2 separate regions of the Homo sapiens genome follow, and region 2 is linked to region 1. Evidence: fine-mapped expression QTL. A gene starts in region 1. The other region holds a variant in brackets. All regions are shown on one strand. Distances are from middle to middle.

Region 1 (2,917 bases):
ACCGTGCCCAGCCCAACTTGTCTGTTAAATGAGATCATAACATCCCCCTCTCTGTGGTTGTGCTGTTCCTTCAGGTAGCAAATGGATACCATCTATTTTCATAGATCTTGTTTTATCAACTGTATTGTGGTATAATTTACATACAATAAAATATACAAGCATTAAGTATACAGTTTGATAAGTTATGGTAATGTAAACCGGTGACCAGATAGATAACCTGTGTGTTTTTTATACTGTCCAGAGATTGTATCAGACTCTGTGGAAATTACAAAGTAGCATAAAGCATCCTTACTTTGGTTAAACCCTTGATTGGGTTAGGCCTGGGATGTAAGTTCTCACAGCCCCCTACTTCCTCTGCATAACCACACATCACATTGTCTGTCACTCTCCTAGTCTGTAAAGCTACTTGAGGGCATCTCGAGCGTTTTCCCTGCTGTATCTGCAGGCATCTAACACAGTGCGTGGACATTCTGTAAGCATTTGTTGCAAGATAAATGAAAAAAACGTACAAAGTTAACAATGGATATCATGCTGAGTTTGTGCCAAACAAAACAGTCATTTGAAGAAGACCCGGAACAACCTTATGGGTTAGTAATTAGTAAAGACCAGTAGAGAAGGTGGCCTTTGAGAAGGGTCAGGTTTCAATAGGATTAAGGAGCATTTCAGAGCTAAACCAAGTACTTGGAAGAGATAAAAGCAGTGGGCTCAGGCACCAGCCTAGCCCACTGTGCATGAAGCTTGGTGGGGCTAAACATGATTATCAGTCCTTTAACTTTTATTGAACGCCTTCACTTCCAGATTTCTAAGTGGGGCTCAGGAATTATAATAGATGTCCACAGCTGCATGGTCTTCTCTCTCCACAACACGCAGACACTATTAGAAGTAAAAGCCACGTGTCCTCAAGAGGGCAAGGCAAAGCATCTTCAGATGTCTCTGCCCTTAAAGCACACGCGTTCTGCTCTGCGACGAAGCAGGACAAGGAGGACAGGGACCTGCACCTCCGGAGGCCCGCACCTACGAAGATAGCGGGCTCGGGACCTTCGGTGGACCGGCAGGGTTCCAGAGGCCCGCGCGCCGCCGCCCCGCCCTCATTGCTGAGCCTGCCAGGTAAGCAGCCCCAGCGCCGTGCCCGCGCGACCTCTACTCCTTCCGGGAGGGTCGCGCTCACGTCTGAAGTGGGAGCAATGCACCGGGACAGGGACACCTCCTAGGCCATGCCTGTTCCAGTCCAGTTCTGCCTGAAAGTCCGGCTGGCTCATCACCTGCCTAAATAAAACCGTATACGGGCAAACTCCCTCCGCAAGCAGCGCGCCCCAGCACCGGAAGTGACGCGTTACGTGCCCGCGTATTCCTACCGGCGTATTCCCGCCCTGCTTTTCGCCCGCCGTTCCGTGGCGGGAACTGAGGCGACTGTGGGGACATCAGTGATCGTAAGTCTCCTGGGCCCGTTATTCTCAGATTAGGTGACGGAGCTAAGACTTCGAGACCATCTCGTCCTTTTTGTATCGCGGAAACCTGAGGAACGAGCCGGCGGCGGTGACCTGCACGAGAAGCCAGGCTAACTGGTAACCTGCTGGAGGAACTGCAAGCCCGCTTCGCCTTCCCCACTCCTGCCCTTGATGCCCCTTGTGAGGTCTTCCACCTCCTTCGGGGCCCCAGCCTAGTGGCCCTTTCATGCCCTGGCCGCGCCCTTTGGTGAAATGGTGGTTCCGGACAGCATCTTGCAGGCCCCGGCTTTGGGCTGTATTAATGTTTAACAGCCCGAGGCAGGGATGGACTAATCCAGTAACGTTATAAAAACCTTGGCTGCTAACAGATATTAAAAATTTATTTTATTGAGCATATCCCCATATGCCAAGCAAGGAACTATGTATTTGCATACATTCTTTTATTTAACTCAGTTGTCCTGTGGAATAGGCCTTAGCTCCTTTAACAGAAAAGGAAACCGGGTATCATAGATGGTAATTCATTCACCAAATATTACGGAGCATCTACCATGTACCAGGCACTGTTCTAGGCACCAGGGCATGTAGCAGTGAAAAAAATAGAATTAACCGGGGACTTTTCAGGCGAGCTAATGATGCTTTTTATCCCTGAAAACAGCCTGGAAGAATGTTTACCTGCATGTTAGAAATAGTTACCTTCTGGGTGGGATTTTGTATTACTTTTTTAAATCTCTCATGCTTTTATGCATTGTTTTGATTTCTTCAAGTGAGTGTGTTATGAGAAAAACAGCTGTTTCTATTTTAACAACAGAGTCCCCCACCTTCCCTTCCCCACAGAAAGTCTCTGAAGGTAGGTAAGCATTGACTCTGCCATGAAAATAGGTCCCTGGCCAGGCGAGATGGCTCACACCTGTAATCCCAGCACTTTGGGAGGCCGGGGCAGGAGGATTACTTGAGCCCAGGAGTTCCAGACCAGCCTAGGCAACATGGTGAAACCCTGTCTCTACCAAAAATTTAAAAAATTAGCCGGGGGTGGTGGCACGCACCTGTAGTCCTAGCTACTGGGGAGGCTGAAGTGGGAAGATGACAGGAGCCTGGGATGTCAAGGCTGCAGTGAACCATGATTCCGCCACTGCACTCCATCCTAGGCAAAAGAGTGAGACCCTGTCTCAAAAACAACAACAACAAAAAAAGGTCTTTGAGTTCTGACCCAAGGAAAGGAGTGAAGGTTCTCATTTGTGGTGCAAGCAGAGCACCTTTAATTGCCGAAGAGTCCATTTCAGGGTCTGAGCTAGAGCTAGGCCCATGACTGTGAAAGAAACCATGGAGGCCCATGTGGTTTGGTCATTAGCAACATCATATTTATCAATGCATTTGGAACTCATTAAACATTTTTGTGACATATGATCTTTGTTCTATAACTCCTGCACTAGAAATAGATTCTAAGTTCGTTAGGGACTTTGACCACTTTT
Region 2 (2,917 bases), 570 kb after region 1:
GAAGACAGAAGGGCTGAGGTAGCACCTATTTCACAAGGTCACCGAACGCTTCCTATGAAGAACTTTGCATACATACTGCTTCTACCCTGCCTATTCGCCCATGTCTAAAATACCCAGGAGTGCCCAATTTGTCCACTGAGAGGCAGGCAAGCAGCCATTTTCTTCAGGCTTCCTTATTTAGCATTGGAGATGGTTTTAAATAGGCAGGTGGTTGTTGCCATGGTTACCCCATTACACCAGCGGCTAAACTTAGGAAAGGCCGCAAGGCATAGGAAGAAAGCTTGATACCCAGGATTTGGAAATGTAAACGGCATTATCAAACAAGGCCTATTTTACTCAGCTGAACTGAGGTTCTCCAAAGAGTAGTTACTGCTTGGCCGGAAGCCTTTACCATTACTGCCCAGGTTTGGACTCTCAGGGATAATCTTGAGGTTAAATCTTGGGAGTTGTCATTGCTGTGTTTTGTTCTGTTTTGTTTTGTTTTCAGCAAGGGAGAGTGACTAGTCAGGTCCGGAACACTTACCAGGAAACCGGAATCATTCACGTTGCTGATTCCCTTTTCTTGGCTATTCTAACAAGAATTCTTAACCTGGGATCCAAGGGCTTCAGGGGTTTTGAGAACACCTTGAAATTGTACTAAGGTACTGAATGTATTTTTCTGCAGAGAATGTCCATAACTATCAGAAGATTCTTAAAGGAACCTATACTCCCAAAATGTTTAAAAGTCACAGGTCTGAGGCCTCTTTGAATCCTAAGAGGCATCAAATTATGACTCAAATGTTGGGGTTTCAGGAAATTCTTCCTCCATGGCCTCTCTAGATGGGTTGTTGCCAGGGAAGATAGTGGGTTCCAGAAAACCAAGTTATGTTCTCTGATGGAATAGTTTCATTAATGGAGCAAGAACCAGAACCGAGGAGGCAGGAATACGAGCCATGTATGATGGGCAAAAAAGAAAAGGCCTTTAACGGCAGAGATGGGGTTATTTTTGGCCCTGTCTACCTCCTAGTTATCAATAGGCTAATCATTAATTGCTAATTGAGGAATGTTAGGGAGATTATCGTCTCACTGTTGGCATAAAGAACAAAAGAGAAATTTGATTCAACTGAGATTCTAAAGTGTTTGAAAGTGATCTGGAATAAAGGGCACATAAGATGTGGCCCCTGCCTTCAAGGAAATCGTCGTCTAGCAAAAGAAAAGGAAAAATAGTGCTCAAGTATTCTTTACAAAATTATTTTAACATACAAGGTGGTTACATTTCATAGGTGATATAGTATACAGGAAGTCGTATAATATGTAAGAACTTATTAATGGTCATATCCCAAACATCATTTGCAAATGGATTGTTTTCTTTTTGGGGGATGTTTTTGGTCTTTTTTTTTTTTTTTTTTTTTTTAGAAAGAGTCATTCTGTCACCTGGCCTGGAGTGCAGTGGTGTGATCTTGGCTCACTGCAACCTTTGCCTCTCAGGTTCAGGTGATTTTCCTACACAGCCTCCTGAGTAGGTGGGATTAAAGGCACACACCACCACGCCTGGCTAACTTTTCTTCCTATTTTTAGTAGAGATGGGGTTTCACCA[T/C]GTCAGCAAGCCTGGTCTTGAACTCCTGACCTCAAGTGATTTGCCTGCCATGGCCTCCGAAAGTGCTGGGATTACAGGTGTGAGCCACCACTCCTGGCCAAATTGGTTGTTTTAGGTGTAGCAATAGTGTTAAAGGGGAACCTGACTAAGAACTGTTTTCATTTTTTTAGCTCCTCCTAGATGCCAAGTGGTGAACTAGGGTCTTTAAATACATTAAATTATTTAAATCACAAAACAACCTTTCAAGATAAATATTAGCATTCCCATTTACAGATAAAGGAACTGACACTGGAAGAAACCAAGTCAACTAACAAAAGTCATGTATTTTTTAGGCAGTGGGGCTAATTTAATTTCTGACCTAGCTCTTCACTCCAGAGTCCAAGCTCTGTTTGCCGCAACTGCTGTCTCACATAGATTTCATTGAGCAAGCACTGATGTATACCAGACACTCTGATAAGTACTTTATACATCATCCCACTCATTGCTCACAATAACATGCAAGGGTAAGTGCTACTGTCCCCATTTTAGAAATGAAGGAACTGAGGCTAAGGAGGATGGAGCTGTCATTGGCATCATCTGCCTTTATGGATTGTCTCTGTGGGAAAATGCCTGCTGAGTTCCAAAGGGGAGGAGAACAGGTACACCATCCAGTCATACCTTGTATGGTGTGAGCATTCTCCCTGTTTCCACGTCCACAGCAAGGAGCAGGACTGGCTGTATGATCTGTGTGACCCAGTGCAAAATTAAAAATGTGAGGCCCCTTCCTCAAAAATGGGACAGCAAAGCATTAAACTAAGCACTGAGCCCTCTTAAGTGTGGGGCCCTGGAGTCCACATCTCACACCTATGAGGTGGCCCTGGCAAGGACAGAGGAATTAATAAAAAGAAGACACTTTTGCCAGTAGTCACAGAGTAGGGTGTTTGCAATAAAGTCAAAAGAATGGAGGAAAGAGGGTTTCAACTTAGGGAGAAGGAGAGGGACTCTCAGTCCCACAAACAGGCAGCAATCAGTACTAGCAGAGGAGCCAAGAATCCCGTCAAAGTCTTCCAGATAGCCAAAAACCAGCCCACCATGAAGTTTCCAGATTAAGTCTCCATGAAGGGTTTTGCATATGAAATCTATACATAAAAGCCACCTAATTCTAATGTCACTGTCAGTGAGTGTCTAGAAAGAGAAGTCTAACTGTGGAATGTTTTCATTGTTGGTTAGAAACTCAGAGTACTTGCGGAATGTGTTATTCTAAACCTGTTGAGTGTATCCACTTGACCGCGTCTCTCAGCAGTTGAGGCTGAAGCAAGTTATTTCCTGTTAGGCCCTTCAGAGGGACCGAAGCAGTGCTTC

The links.
Region 2: its variant is fine-mapped to the expression of RFC4 in kidney cortex (GTEx, PIP 0.92).

The regions. Positions count from the first base shown.
Region 1 is chr3:186,804,938-186,807,854 of GRCh38, reverse strand. RFC4 (replication factor C subunit 4) reads left to right here and starts at 1,373. Exons shown (of 11, transcript NM_002916.5): 1 at 1,373-1,565. RefSeq lists enhancers at 594-1,205, 1,206-1,817.
Region 2 is chr3:186,236,769-186,239,685 of GRCh38, reverse strand. All of the region lies in intron 20 of DGKG (diacylglycerol kinase gamma), which reads left to right. Among named protein-coding and RNA genes, the nearest start is that of DGKG, 120 kb to the left of the region's middle. The variant T/C (reference allele first, on the strand shown) is at 1,577.